Linked DNA regions of Homo sapiens: region 2 is linked to region 1. The links come from fine-mapping of genetic effects on gene expression. Tissue or cell type: aorta. Region 1 holds a variant in brackets; the other region holds the start of a gene. All regions are shown on one strand. Distances are between the middles of the regions.

Region 1 (8,000 bases):
CCTTCTGGTACTAAACAAGTGTTTTCTCATTCACTTTATTATTATTATTTCTGTCATAGCCTTCCATGCCACTTAAAGGTGTCCCTCTCAGGGCCTTGTGCCACCTAAGTGTTACCTCACCCAGCCGGCAGACTATTGCAGAGGATTCAGATCATTAACAACAGTAATAGCATATGTTTCAGTTTCTATTTTTTAGAATAACAAACAAAATGAGTATTTAAATATTTAAAGTTTTTCACCTTTGAAATTGAATATTTGGCAGTCAGGAATGCATAGAAAGTTAGTGTATTGGTTAATGGAGCTCGCCGGTAGCGATTCAATACTTGGTTAACTTATTACTTTGTTTAACACTTCTGGACACTATTGTAATCTTAACCATTTTCAGTTTAAACTTGTTTTTATTGTTATTCACATTTAATTTGCACCCATAATATACCATTGAATAGATAGGAAACCTTAAAAAAAACACTGAGTTTGAAATTCAGTGATAATAAGGAATCTTAAAAAAGATAATTAGGGAAATTTACCTCAGTCTTCAACAGATCCACAAGTTCCATTCATCTGATCAAAATTCTTATACCAACGCTTGATATTTTTAATGTTTCAAAGCCAGTGTTAAGAAGAGAGAATTGTGATAACTTTATTTAGATTGGCTGTACATTTATTGAAAATCAAGTGCTACAATATATAATTTGAAAGAAGTGCTAGACAGTAGCAGCCTGAAATGCTCTCTTTTAACTAGCCATTTAGAAACAACATACTCAATATTATATAAAAGAAGACAATTCATTTTTAAGCATAAAATGCAAAGAACTAACATAAGGTTACCAGTTAAAAGGGTTACCTATCTATTGTTTTTTTAAATTGGTTTGTTTTTACTTACATTCAGTTTTTATTATTTAAAAAAGCACACATTGACCACATTGCTTTTTAACATGTTCAGCCACATTTGAATTCTTTTTCTTTTTAAATATACCATGCTCTCCCCCATGAGCCTTTATGTATATGCTGATTTCTTGCTTGGAATAGTATTTTCAGCCTTTCACCTACTTGATTTTTTCCCAAGTTTTAAATCCCAAGTCTCTCCCCAAACATCCTCTTGTATAATTATAACATTAATTGTATCATATTACAATTGATTTTTAGTTGACTAATCCTATTCTAGAAGTGCTATGTGAGTAGGAGATTGCTCTATTCCTAGATGTCACTACGATACCTAATACTGGTAGATAACAAATAGTTTGCTAAAAATTCCATTATAAATTCCAAATTATGTGGATCAAGTTAAAGTTCATAAGCCTATTTGGAAGTTCAGATATCAAAAAGCAATGGCTGTAATTGGTCTTCTGTCTCTATGGGTCCGGAATTTCTTTATTAATAAGGTCGTCTGGTATGTCAGATTATTACTGAAAATGTCATATTTCTGTGGTCTCCCTGCCCCTTTCTTAAGGGAAGGAGAAAGGAAAGGAGAGAAATTGCTGTTGTGTGGGTTGTATTTGAATTGTTCACCTGAGATCAGGAATTGTGTCTTGTTTTTACCTTATTCAGTGCCTAGCATACTACTGGAGTACAATAAATAAGTAATAATGGTGAGGAATATACTAGTAGACAATCTGTAGCGCTGAAAAATAATGCAAAGAATGGAAGAAATATTCTTTTAAGTTCTAAGTTCAGGTAAAGAGAGTGCTTTGGGATATGTTTTTGAGTTTAGTAGGAATCATAATTTCTGCAACAGATTGTCCTTATGTGTTGACATTCCATATCCTTAAGAAGAAAATACTGAATTATTGTGCTTTCCCAGAAGAAATATAGAGAAAGATATAGGGTATTATAGAAATTTTAAACTATGACCAAATGCTCCTACAATATTAATAGCAATGTAGAATGGTAAGTTTAAAAAAAAGAAAAAGAAACAAAGCAATTCAGGAGGCAGATGGTAAGAATGTCAGCCCACCTGAGAATAGCTCTGAACTCTGAGCTTTAACTGCTGAACCCAAACCAAGCCGTATAAGGAGATGGGTCCTGAGTTAAACTGCTGGCTGTCTTGTCAGCTTTGTTTGATGTTACTTTTCCCTTTGAAGATTTTGTGTTTCGTATCAAGTTTGTGGCAACATAAGAATGGTTCTATATTACATGTGTGTTTCTCAGCATTGTTAACAGCTTTGTCTTTATTGTCACTGATATATTTAATTCAGTGATCCTAGTTCGCATGGTGGCAGTGTGGTATTTTCATCAGTTTAAGGATGAGAAGAGCAGAGATATTTAAAAGGAAATGTCAAAAGACTTTTTCTTTAGATCTGTGCCAGAAAAAAACACTTATTTATGATTTAGAACTTATGAGACACATATAGGGTACATTAGACAGGATGATAAGAAATTGTGCTTGCTTTTATTTCTGCAAATGGTGGGAACATTGTATGTTTAAAAAGATCAGGTTATTGATATGAAATAATTTAACAATTAAACATATAATAGCAATGAATTAATACTTGTATATTTAGAACCAGATGCAGGTCTAAGTATATTTTTGATTTTGCAAAGCTTGGGATCTCGAAGTCAGACATTGTGTATTATTTAACCTTATAGCCTTAGCAGCACCCACACTGTACCTGACTCATTGCCAAGTGCCCAACGAAGGTTTATTGAATCAATCAATAAATTATCTTCCCTTTTGAAGAGTTCTAAAATCTTTTAGAGCTCTTTCTCTTCCCATCTTTTATGCAGGCAAGGTAGTTGTATCTGCACATGGATTGAATACAAAAAGGCATAATGAAGAGTTGCTGATTTGATGGAACTTATAATCAGTTGGTGAGTCAGGATAGACTCCTGTAGTGCAATAAGGTGATAAATGCTCATGGGGTTTGAAAAGATAAATTTATTGAAATGAGATGGTTAGGGAATATTTTTAAGAAGTTGTATTTGAGCTTGATTTTGAAGGAATGATAGGGCTTGAACAAGGAATTCCAGGCAGGGAGAACTATGTGAACCGAAACAGGATGCCACTAGCCTGTAAGAGAGTAAGGTTAAACTATGTGTTGTTTTTTCTTTTGCAGTAATGTTGATGTTTTTATTTCTTTCTGCAGTTCTTTACAATTTTTGAAATATACCCATATACATACCCTTACAGGTTTTTTTGTGATAAACGTGATATTTGTAAGATTCAGAAAAGTTGGGGGATTTTCTCAGCATCATCTAGTTATTAAACCAAAGAGCTGAGAGTGCTGGCTTTTTGTAAACCACTGTGGCTATTGCTTTTCTTTTTGGCCAAAGTCATCTACACTTAATTATTGAAGCCTTCTTGTGACCACTGGAAAGTATCTTTCAGGTAAAGGCATAATCTGTGAACATGAAACAGAAGAGGACTTGTCGATATATAGTTTTTGAGCCAGAGGGTTGCTAAAATGCTGTAAAAGGAAAGGATGGGGAGGAGGAGAAGGATTAGCTAACATTTATCTAATACTTTCCATGTGTGAGACATTGTCAGGGCCTTAAATGTGTTAATGTATTCAATACTTACAACACTCTTATGGGGATATATTATTTTTATGAACTCTTATTATGCTGTATTGCTTATTACGTATTGAAGCAAATATTTGAACACAGGCAGTTCAGCTCAAGAGCCCATTCATAGTAGCTAGGCATGCGGGTTTAAATGAAAGGATGCCTGTAAGGTTCCTGTTATTATTGTTAATGCCATTTCCTTTATGTTATAATCAATTGAGGATAGACATAATTTTTACTTGTTTTCAAAGTAGGAAGGAACTACCAAGGCCACAAAGTAACTCCTTTATTCTAGGCAGAGCATGGTAGTTGGGTTAGAATTCTTTTTCTTTCTTTTTTCTTTCTTTCTTTCTTTCTTTCTTTCTTTCTTTCTTTCTTTCTTTCTTTTTTATCATTATACTTTAAGTTTTAGGGTACATGTGCACAATATGCAGGTTAGTTACATATGTATACATGTGCCATGCTGGTGCGCTGCACCCACTAACTCGTCATCTAGCATTAGGTATATCTCCCAATGCTATCCCTCTCCCCCGCCCACCCCACAACAGTCCCCAGAGTGTGATGTTCCCCTTCCTGTGTCCATGTGTTCTCATTGTTCA[A/G]TTCCCACCTATGAGTGAGAATATGCGGTGTTTGGTTTTTTGTTCTTGTGATAGTTTACTGAGAATGATGATTTCCAATTTCATCCATGTCCCTACAAAGGACATGAACTCATCATTTTTTATGGCTGCATAGTATTCCATGGTGTATATGTGCCACATTTTCTTAATCCAGTCTATCGTTGTTGGACATTTGGGTTGGTTCCAAGTCTTTGCTATTGTGAATAATGCCGCAATAAACATAGGTGTGCATGTGTCTTTATAGCAGCATGATTTATAGTCCTTTGGGTATATACCCAGTAATGGGATGGCTGGGTCAGATGGTATTTCTAGTTCTAGATCCCTGAGGAATCGCCACACTGACTTCCACAATGGTAGAACTAGTTTACAGTCCCACCAACAGTGTAAAAGTGTTCCTATTTCTCCACATCCTCTCCAGCACCTGTTGTTTCCTGACTTTTTAATGATTGCCATTCTAACTGGTGTGAGATGATATCTCACTGTGGTTTTGATTTGCATTGCTCTGATGGCCAGTGATGGTGAGCATTTTTTCATGTGTTTTTTGGCTGCATAAATGTCTTCTTTTGAGTAGTGTCTGTTCATGTCCTTCACCCCCTTTTTGATGGGGTTGTTTGTTTTTTTCTTGTAAATTTGTTTGAGTTCATTGTAGATTCTGGATATTAGCCCTTTGTCAGATGTGTAGGTTGCGAAGATTTTCTCCCATTTTGTGGGTTGCCTGTTCACTCTGATGGTAGTTTCTTTTGCTGTGCAGAAGCTCTTTAGTTTAATTAGATCCCATTTGTCAATTTTGCCTTTGGTTGCCATTGCTTTTGGTGTTTTAGACATGAAGTCCTTGCCCATGCCTATGTCCTGAATGGTAATGCCTAGGTTTTCTTCTCTGGTTTTTATGGTTTTAGGTCTATCGTTTAAGTCTTTAATCCATCTTGAATTGATTTTAGTATAAGGTGTAAGGAAGGGATCCAGTTTCAGCTTTCTACATATGGCTAGCCAGTTTTCCCAGCATCATTTATTAAATAGGGAATCCTTTCCCCATTGCTTGTTTTTCTCAGGTTTGTCAAAGATCAGATAGTTGTAGATATATGGCATTATTTCTGAGGGCTCTGTTCTGTTCCATTGATCTATATCTCAGTTTTGGTACCAGTACCATGCTGTTTTGGTTACTGTAGCCAAAATCTCCTTAAGCTGATAAGCAACTTCAGCAAAGTCTCAGGATACAAAATCAATGTGCAAAAATCACAAGCGTTCTTATACACCAATAACAGACAAACAGAGAGCCGAATCATGAGTGAACTCCCATTCACAATTGCTTCAAAGAGAATAAAATACCTAAGAATCCACCTTACAAGGGACGTGAAGGACCTCTTCAAGTAGAACTACAAACCACTGCTCAACAAAATAAAACAGGATACAAACAAATGGAAGAACATTCCATGCTCATGGGTAGGAAGAATCAATATCGTGAAAATGGCCATACTGCCCAAGGTAATTTCTACATTCAATGCCATCCCCATCAAGCTACCAATGACTTTCTTCACAGAATTGGAAAAAAATACTTTAAAGTTCATATGGAACCAAAAGAGAGCCTGCATCGCCAAGTCAATCCTAAGCCAAAAGAACAAAGCTGGAGGCATCACACTACCTGACTTCAAACTATACTACAAAGCTAGAATTCTTATAGTTTTGAATTAGATGCCTTTTGATGGGCATTTTTGTACCTCTGCCTAAGTAAATGTTGTTTAGTTAGGTTTCAAGATATGTTGTTAAATGCTTGACTTATTGATGACGGGGAGATAGCACTTTTATATATAAACACTTTTTTTCTGAATTACAGGGTTTTGTTGTTTAGGTTGTACAATTAGCATTTTAATCTGTCTCAGTTTTATTGTATCATAAGAATCTGTGATAATAAAATTACATTCATTTAGAAACTAAAAAACATGATTCTAACAAGTCAAACTAAGTTGGGATTTTAGAAAGACAACAAATACCTATAATATGAATTTGGATAATGGAAGAACAAGTGATGTGTGTCACCATTGTTATAAACCCTTTCTACATATATTTATTAGAAAATTATAGTTGCATATATATCATAGAAATTCTGAGACCTTAACATTCATAGACGTTAAAAACTTATAGGGTGTTTGTGGAATTTATGGATAAAAGCTTATGTTATGACATCACTAAATACACTTTTAAAATACCCTACTTGTATACCCATTAAACAGTAATTTCCCATTTCCCCCATCTCCCTAGATCCTGGCAATCACCATTCTATTTTTTCTCTATTATTTTGACGACTCTAAGTATTTCATATAAGTAGAATTCTACAGTATTTGTCTTTTCGTGCATGGCCTATTTCACTTAGCATAATGTCCTCAAGGTTAATACATGTTGTAGCATAGTAGCATATATCAGCATTTCCTTCTTTTGTAGGGCTGAATAATATTCCATTGTATGTATATAGCACATTCTGCTTATTCAGTCATCCATTGATGGACATGGGTTACTTCCTTGTTTTAGCAATTGTGAATAATGTTCCTACGAATGTGGGTATACAAATATCTCTTCAAGACCCTACTTTCAATTCTTTCAGGGTTATACCCAGAAGTGAAATTACTGGATCATTTGGTGATTCTATTTTTTTTTCCCAGTGGTTCATAATGGGCATACAAGTATGCTTCCATATTTTTTTTAATTTTTTTATTTTTTTTTAATTTATTATTATTTAGGTTTTAGAGTACATGTGCACAATGTGCAGGTTAGTTACATATGTATACATGTGCCATGCTGGTGCGCTGCACCCACTAACTCATCATCTAGCATTGGGTATATCTCCCAATGCTATCCCTCCCCGCTGCCCCCACCCCACAACAGTCCCCACAGTGTGATGTTCCCCTTCCTGTGTCCATGTGTTCTCATTGTTCAATTCCCACCTATGAGTGAGAATATGTGGTGTTTGGTTTTTTGTTCTTGCGATAGTTTACTGAGAATGATGATTTCTAATTTCATCCATGTCCCTACAAAGGACATGAACTCATCATTTTTTATGGCTGCATAGTATTCCATGGTGCATATGTGCCACATTTTCTTAATCCAGTCTATCGTTGTTGGACATTTGGGTTGGTTCCAAGTCTTTGCTATTGTGAATAATGCCGCAATAAACATAGGTGTGCATGTGTCTTTATAGCAGCATGATTTATAGTCCTTTGGGTATATACCCAGTAATGGGATGGCTGGGTCAGATGGTATTTCTAGTTCTAGATCCCTGAGGAATCACCACACTGACTTCCACAATGGTAGAACTAGTTTACAGTCCCACCAACAGTGTAAAAGTGTTCCTATTTCTCCACATCCTCTCCAGCACCTGTTGTTTCCTGACTTTTTAATGATTGCCATTCTAACTGGTGTGAGATGATATCTCATTGTGGTTTTGATTTGCATTGCTCTGATGGCCAGTGATGGTGAGCATTTTTTCATGTGTTTTTTGGCTGCATAAATGTCTTCTTTTGAGTAGTGTCTGTTCATGTCCTTCGCCCCCTTTTTGATGGGGTTGTTTTTTTCTTTTAAATTTGTTTGAGTTCATTGTAGATTCTGGATATTAGCCCTTTGTCAGATGAGTAGGTTGCGAAGATTTTCTCCCATTTTGTGGGTTGCCTGTTCACTCTGATGGTAGTTTCTTTTGCTGTGCAGAAGCTCTTTAGTTTAATTAGATCCCATTTGTCAATTTTGGCTTTGGTTGCCATTGCTTTTGGTGTTTTAGACATGAAGTCCTTGCCCATGCCTATGTCCTGAATGGTAATGCCTAGGTTTTCTTCTCTGGTTTTTATGGTTTTAGGTCTAACATTTAAGTCTTTAATCCATCTCGAATTGATTTTAGTG
Region 2 (8,144 bases), 390 kb before region 1:
GTCAGCCTATTCTTGTAATCTCTGAAGCCAGGCATTCACTTCACTTCTGTAGGGATCATCTTCCGATAGAAGGCTGTTTTCTGTACATTGTAAATCTGTTGTTCAGAATAGTCATCATCAATGATCTTAGCTACATCTTCTGGATAACTTGTTGCAGCTGCTACATCAGCACTTGTTGGTTTACTTTGCACTTGAATGTTACAAAGAAGGCTTCTTTCTTTAAAACTTATGAACCAATTTCTGCTAGCTTCCAACTTTTCTTCTGCAGCTTCTTCACCTCTCTCAGCCTTCGCAGAATTTAAGAGAGTTTGGGTCTTACTCTGAATTAAGCTTTGGCCTAATTCAGGGAGTGTTGCTGGTTTGATCTTCTACCTAGACACTACAACTTTCTTCATATCACTAATAAGGCTGTTTCACGTTCTTATAATTTGTGTGTCCACTGGAGTCTCATCCTGTCACCAAGGCTAGACTCAAATTCCTTGCCTCCCATTTTAGCCTCCCAAAGTGCTGGCATTCCCCTGCCTCAGCCTCCCAAAGTGCTGGGATTACAGGCTTGAGCCACCACACCTGGCCTAATTTCCTTCAAGAATTTTTCCTGTGCATTAATACCTTGGCTACCATTTGGCGCAAGAGGCCTAGCTCTCAGCCTGTCTCGGATTTTGACATGCCTTCCTCACTAAGCTAATCATTTCTAGCTTTAGGTGTGTCTTCCTTTCACTTTAATGCTTAGAATTAGAAGTCATTGTAATTTGGGGGACACATTCAAACCATAGCAAATGTGAAACCCCTTAGTATAGTGCTTGGCACATATTACATGTTTAATAATGTTATTTGGCTAAGAGTGGTGGTTCACACCTATAATCCCAGCACTTTGGGAGGCCAAGGTGGGCGGATCACTTGAGATCAGCCTAGGCAACATAATGAAACCCTGTCTCTGAAAATAAAAAACATATAAATTTAAAAAACAAACACAAAATAATATTATCTGGATTTAAATCTTGTATATTAACCTATGTATCTTAATACTTTTAACACAAGCCCATGCCTACCTCTTATTACATTTATTCCCAAACATTTTGTGTTTTCTTTTGCTAATGTAAGAATGAGAAGGAAGATTTATTGCAAGGTCAGAAAAAGCAAGTCTGGAAAGGCGGGTAGGGAGATTAGGGCCCTTGACTGACAGCAGAAAATCTGGGTTTTATCCAGGCAGCAATTGAGGGGCCACCAAAAGAAATAATCAGTATAGTAACATAATCAGAGTTATGCTTTAGAAGGATATTTCCGTTTTAGCATATAGAAGGAGCATAGGACCAGAGCCACTGAGAGCAACAATTATGGCAAGGCCTTTCAGTTCTACGAATTGATACCAAGGCAGCATAATAATCAAGAAGCTGTGGGGTGGGGGGTGGGGGGTGGGAGACTAGGGGAGGGATAGCATTAGGAAAAATACCTAATGTAGATGACGGGTTGATGGGTGCAGCAAACCACCATGGCACATGTATAGCTATGTAACAAACCTGCACATTCTGCACATGTACCCCAGAACTTAAAGTATAATTAAAAAAAATAATAATCAAAACCTGGTATTTAAACCTTCTAGGGGAGGTTACAGAAGGGTCAAAAGAATGTGGTTCATCTGGTGCTTTAAAACTCTGAGGCTCACATACGTACAATCAGTTTATTACACTCCCCTAGTTTCATAAAGATACAGGTGTTCTTAGACCTGCTTTTGATTTTTTTCTATTTTTTTGATCCTCTCTTCTTATATATGCCAGTTTAAAAATGCCCTAGATGTTAATGGTCAACTTCTAAAAATGTCAAGAATTTGCACAGAAGGGGAAGGTGAGTGACTTGCATTGGGCCACAAGGAAGGTCCTAATTATGAGTGTCTCAATAGGAAGCAATAAGGAAACAGACAAATGAAGTTGCTTAGTACTAAGTAGGCACAGAAAGAAGACATGAGGTTTAGAGAAAAAGTAGGAATCCTGCATGCAGGAAGTGAGAGTTTGAGAGAGAAAGACGCAAACAAAATTTTTAGGGTTTTTCTTGCCTGGGTGTCTAGGAGATTAGAAGTTTTATAAACAGGTGGGAGAGTAGTTTAGAGGATTCCCACAAGAAGTTAGAAAGATAATTAAAATTTAGTTATATTAAATTAAGTATTTCCAGAAATTAGAGTGGCACTGTTCAAACCGGGGTTAAAAATTCAAAACTAGAGCTCAGGAGAGGTCAGAGATGGATATAAAGAGTTGAATATTGGGGATATGGAGTTCATACTTGCAGGAATGGATGACATCACTGAGGACGCTTATCTGGTACAAACGATGGGAAGGTTGAGGGCAGAAACTGAGAAAATATCACTTTGAGGGGCAGGAAGGGAAGAATGGTTTCCTGAGCAGCAGCAGAAAGTTCAGAGAGTTGGAGAAACAATGGAGTATAGAGTCTCACCTTTGCTGGAGAGGCATCTGAGGATCAACATGTGTCAGCAAAGTCAAGGGGTCTCAGATTTGGCAATGAGGTCACTACTGACTTTGGAAGCTATTGGTAGAGTGGTGTGAATGAATGAATCTAATCATATCTCAAAAGGATTGGTAGAAAGAAGAGAGAGAAATGAAGTGATGTTGAGGCCAAAAGATAAGCGGGTAGGAGAACATCTCTTTATATAGCTTTTTTCAAGTAGTAGTAGCATGTTAAGCAAATAAAAGACAACAGAGAATCTCCACGCATTTTGAAATGGTCTGATTTATTGTGTAATTTTTATATTTTTTCTGCTTAAAACCCTTCATTAGCTTCATTGCTTGATAAACTCCTAAGTATGATGTAGAAATTCCTCTGTGATCTGGGTTCTGCATATTTCTCTAGCCTCATCGCTCACACCTCCTTTGCACAGACAGCTTTTTCCAGCTTTTCAAATGTCTGGTGCTGGTTCTTATGCTGGTGTTTGCAGCTTCCGTGTCTTCCTTCTAGTTCCTTGTTAGCTTCATAAATCTTTAACGGTCTTCTTAAACTAAGCTCAAAGTTCTTTTCTATGAATCATTTCTGGGAGCTCAGGGTTGATATCAATATTCCCCTGTATTTCTATCATCTAGCTCCATGTTGGGTACATAGTCTGTATTCTGTAAATGCTGAATGAACAAATAAATGAAAACGGGTCTTCACATCACATCCATTTTTCATTTCAAAAACATACAATATAGTACATAGCATTTATTCTTGCGATACAATATTCACTTTTGTGACTTTGTTAAAACACAAATAATTTTTTTTTTTTTTTTTTTGAGACGGAGTCGCGCTCTGTCGCCCAGGCTGGAGTGCAGTGACGCAATCTCGGCTCACTGCAAGCTCCACCACCCGGGTTCACGCCATTCTCCTGCCTCAGCCTCCCGAGTAGCTGGGACTACAGGCGCCCGCCACCACGCCCAGCTAATTTTTTTTGTATTTTTAGTAGAGACAGGGTTTCACCGTGTCAGCCAGGATGGTCTCGGTCCCCTGACCTCATGATCCGCCCACCTCGGCCTCCCAAAGTGCTGGGATTACAGACGTGAGCCACCGCGCCCGGCCAACACAAATGAAATTTTAAGTAGTTCCAGCTACTCAGGAGGCTGAGGCAGGAGGATGGCTTGAGTCCTGAAGGTCTAGGCTGCAGCGAGGCGTGATTGTGCCGCTGTACTCTAGCCTGGGCAACAGAGAACAACCCTGTTTCAAAAAAAAAAAAAAAAAAAAGAAAAAGAAAAAAATAAAATTTAAAAATATTTTTTAAAGCTTGTAACATAAAAGTTCTAATCTCATTAGTCAGTTGTAATTTTCCATTTCATTTCTAAACTTTAGAGTGGGCTATTTTTTCCCTTTATTTCCTCTGGAGCAATTGTCCTCTTTATGGCTCTAGTAAAAAGAATCAGGGACAGGCCTCCGTTTTAGATGTAAATGACTAAAATCAAACCAATTAAGGTTTCAGTGCTACAAGAATCAAGGAGGTTTTAATCTCAATTTGTGTTTGCATTTATGACCGTTGGCTCTCCCATGGGAGAGAGAAAAGACGGCCCCTACACCTGGTTTCAGGTTGATTACAATCAACAAGGACCCAGTTTAGTATAGAAGGCTCGTTTTGCATTAAACACCTTTTTGTGCAGAGGAGGTGGTGGTGGTGAAGATAAAAATCTTTGACCAAATCCTGTCAATTTGCATTGTTCTCTGGAAGAATAGGCTTTCAAAAGTTAAGGAACAAAAGAGGAGTTGGTTTTCCAGTCTCCCTTAGGCGGCAGCAGATTGTGAAGCAGCCACCGGGAGGAACCAAAGTATAAATTATCAATAAGAGGACGGTGTGTGTGTGTGTGTGTGTGTGTGTGTGTGTGTGTGTGTGTGTGTCAGAGAAAAGTGAGAGAAGCGAGGAAAGAGATAGGGAACACACATGCTAAGGCTCCGAGGCGTTTTCCACGATGTGCCTGGTTACGTAATGTTGATAATGAAACGCACTGCAAGCAGCATCAATGCATTCTTCCGACCCTGCTCACCACTCCCAGCTGGGATACAATGGGGACGGGAAGAGGGGACAGGATGCCCTGTGCAGGCAGAGAGCTGTCCAGACAGAGGTAAACCAGGCAGTTGGGCAGAACCCGAGCCCAGAGAATTTCTCCCCAGGCCCCGGGACCAGCCCACCGTTGCTGTGGCTCTAAAGATGGGCAGAAGAACCAGTTTCAAAAAGCAGGATCTGGGATCCGACCTCTTAGGTTTTTATTCAGCAGGCAGGGAAAAGGGGTTAGAAGCTGGAAATCTGCATTTCCACTCGGCTCTGGCGACTGAGACAGGAACGCGGACACCTCACGCTGAAAAGCCACAGCAGCGCGTGGGCAGGGCGCACCCCCGCGCGGGGACGCGGAGCTCCTGGAGCGAGAGCGCGTGCGGTCGCGAGCCCGCCGCTCCCCAGCAACGGCGCATGCGCCCGTTCGTCCCTCAGCGAAGGCGCGCTGCTTGGCGGGCGGGCTCTTCCAATCCGAGCCAGCGTTCTCGGAGTACGTATCCAGGAGCTGCAAGCTGAGGGCTGCGGGAGGCGGGAGGAAAAAGTGGGGCCGGGCCTGAGTTGGGCTGACCTGTGAAAGTCTGGGAAGGTCTGCGAGAGAAGCGGAGTGTTTTCAGCTCCGGAAGTGGCAGTTGTAAACTTCACCTCCCGGGGGCTCTTCCCCTTCTGTACCCCTTTGCTGTTTGTCCCCCTCCTCCCGGGTCCTGGAGTCCGTCGTGTTCCAACAGTTTTTGCTCTTATTCCCGTGGGCTGCCTGGGCCTCCTTTCACCCGTGAGACTTGGAGCGGCCCCTGGGGTCTTGGGTGTGCAGCACGGATCACGCGAGACCCCTGAGGTAACCGCACGGTGTGGGGGCTTCGAGGCGGACGACTTGGGAGGGAGGTGTTGAGAGGGTTGTAGGGGCCCCTGAGTGAGTTTGGGGCGGCCCTGGGGCTGTTGGCGTAGGCTTTGGGGCACGCCTCCAGCTCCCTGGGCTGGGTCTCCCCGCCCACCTGGAGGAAGATCTCCGTGGAGCATCCTAGCCAGAGATCGCTGAGGCTGTACCAGAGCGCCGGATGGGGACCAGAGGGGAGGCAGAGGACCGGGATTTGGAGCTTCTTAGGGTTACTGCTGCGGAGCGCTTTCGTTCCCGAGAATCAGTAAGCCCCTCGAGGATAGGGACCACGTCTTTCAGCCCGCTCTCCCCTTTTTAAATGCCGGCCACACACTAGACACTCTACAGATGTTTGATAAACGGGAATGAGTTGTGCTAGACTGTCACCTGCAGCTTCTACCTACCCTCCAGGACTCTGAGAGACTTAGAATCTGAGTCAGCTGTGCGTTTTCCCGAAGCTGTAAATTTTCTGCAGAAATGGAGCCGACTTTTTGAATTTTTTTATTCCATTATGATATTGATCCTAAGAAAATACATATTTCATGTATACATTTTAGGTAAATGAGATAAATACGTCTTTATTTTGTTTATTAGAGTTGGTGTCCAGCTCTTTTGAATACATGACATACCGATGTTTTATGGTTTTCATAATATTGGAGAAAAGAACATACGATTTTGTCACTTTTTTTTTTTTTTGAGATGGAGTCTTGCTCTGTCACCCAGGCTGGAGTGCAGTGGCGCGATCTCGGCTCACTGCAAGCTCCGCCTCCCGGGTTCACGCCATTCTCCTGTCTCAGCCTCCCCAGCAGCCGGGACAACCGGCGCACGCCGCCACGCCCGGCTAATTTTTTTGTATTTTTAGTGGAGACGGGGTTTCACTGTGTTAGCCAGGATGGTCTCGATCTCCTGACATCGTGATCCGCCCGCCTCGGCCTCCCAAAGTGCTGGGATTACAGGCGTGAGCCACTGCGCCCGGCATGTCACTTATTTTATTTAACTGTTAGTTCCTACTCTCAACAAAACAGTGGTAGAGCAGAAGATGAACATGGTTTTTCATAAAATGCAGAGGAAACAAAGGCAGTGCAACCTGCTAAGAGGAAAGATGAAGGGCATAGTCTTAGTTTGTAGCTTTCTGTGTTAGTCTTGGGGCTCAGCCATTTATGAGCTGCGTCCCCACAGGCAAACCACCTAACCTTCCTAGGCGTTAGGTTCTTTATCTGTCAGATAAGGAGGAAGGACTTAGTCTCTAAAGTCTCATTTGATTCTAAAACGTTTTGGTTGTCTCAGTCCCTTGGTCTTGGTCTTGTTTTGATGTAAGAACCAAACTTCCCCTTTAAAGGTTGATTATGTACCTATGCTGAGAAACACTTCCAACACAGGTGTGGTTACTAATGAAGACAGCACTGCGTAGTGAAAGAGGATGGACTTAGCCAGATGTGGATTTGAATTCTCATTTTCCGGCTGAATATTTTTACACAAATTATTCAACATCTCCAAGCCTCAGTTTTCTTATCTGTGAAATGTGCATAATCTCATAGAGATGTTGGGATTAAATGAGATCAGGAATGCTGATCTCAGTATCTGGCATATAGTAAGTGGCTCAATAATAGGAATTTCTATTTTTTCATCCACCCATCCCTCGTTTTTCCTCTGATCTGTGCAGACACACTGAAAGATGAGTGCATTTGGGATGACCAACTGAAGGACTCAGATGTAAGGTAGAAAAATTTTTTACCAGTAGTGGCTCCGAAATCTAAAGTAGATTCGCCTTTCTGGCTGGCACCTCCTCTCAGGATGTCGGGATCACTGATCCCTTGGCCTCAATTACCCTTTTATCTATTTTTAAAAATGCTTCTCATTGATGAATGATACACATAATATCCCATCATCTATTTTAGTAGGAATGGTGAGATTAGTTCAACTCCACTATCAAAAAAAGATTAATCTATTAATACATTAACATAAAAAGCTAATTTGAACCTTGCCTTTCTTTATCTATTACTGCTACAGGATGGCCTGGTTTTGGTCCAGAACTGTGAAGGTGCTATCTGGATTGAGAATCGACTGAAGGTCTGAGTAATCTTTTGTTGAGAAGGCCATGGCTTGTCAGTTTCGATACGGGGAAAAATGATATTTTTAAGAAATCTCCAGCAAAGAGCAGAAATGCTTCCCTGATAAGTGAGGTCTTACATGCTTCCCTGACTGGGATGAACTGTGTCTTGAGGGCCAATAGCAAGGCACACAGCAGAGCTCTGGAGTCAGCTAACTTGGGTGTAAATCCTGACCCTGTCACTAGAGATGTGAGAGATGTGACTTTAGTCAAGTGACTGAGTATCTATTTTTATTTCTTTTATTATTATACTTTAAGTTATAGAGTACATGTGCACAATGTGCAGGTTTGTTACATATGCATACATGTGCCATGTTGGTGTGCTGCACCTGTTAACTCGTCATTTACATTAAGTATATCTCCTAATGCTATACCTCCCACCTTCCCCCACTCTCTGCCAGGCCCCGGTGTGTGATGTTCCCCACCCTGTGTCCAAGTATTCTCGTTGTTCAATTCCTACCTAAGAGTGAGAACATGCGGTGTTTGGTTTTCTGTCCTTGCGATATTTTGCTCAGAATGATGGTTTCTAGCTTTATCCATCTCCCTACAAAGGACATGAACTCATCCTTTTTTATGGCTACATAGTATTCCATGGTGTATATGTGCCACATTTTCTTAATCCAGTCTATCATTGATGGACATTTGGG

What was found. PIP is the estimated chance that this variant, and not a neighbour inherited with it, causes the effect.
Region 2: CCDC171 starts here. The variant in region 1 is fine-mapped to the expression of CCDC171 in aorta (GTEx, PIP above 0.99).

Annotation. Positions count from the first base shown.
Region 1 is chr9:15,941,000-15,948,999 of GRCh38, forward strand. The region is part of intron 25 of CCDC171 (coiled-coil domain containing 171); the gene reads left to right. Among named protein-coding and RNA genes, the nearest start is that of LINC03041, 330 kb to the right of the region's middle. The variant A/G (reference allele first, on the strand shown) is at 4,101.
Region 2 is chr9:15,547,955-15,556,098 of GRCh38, forward strand. It overlaps CCDC171 (coiled-coil domain containing 171), which reads left to right and starts at 5,089. Exons shown (of 26, transcript NM_173550.4): 1 at 5,089-5,348. RefSeq lists enhancers at 4,686-5,331, 5,227-5,396 and silencers at 4,787-4,846, 4,857-4,946.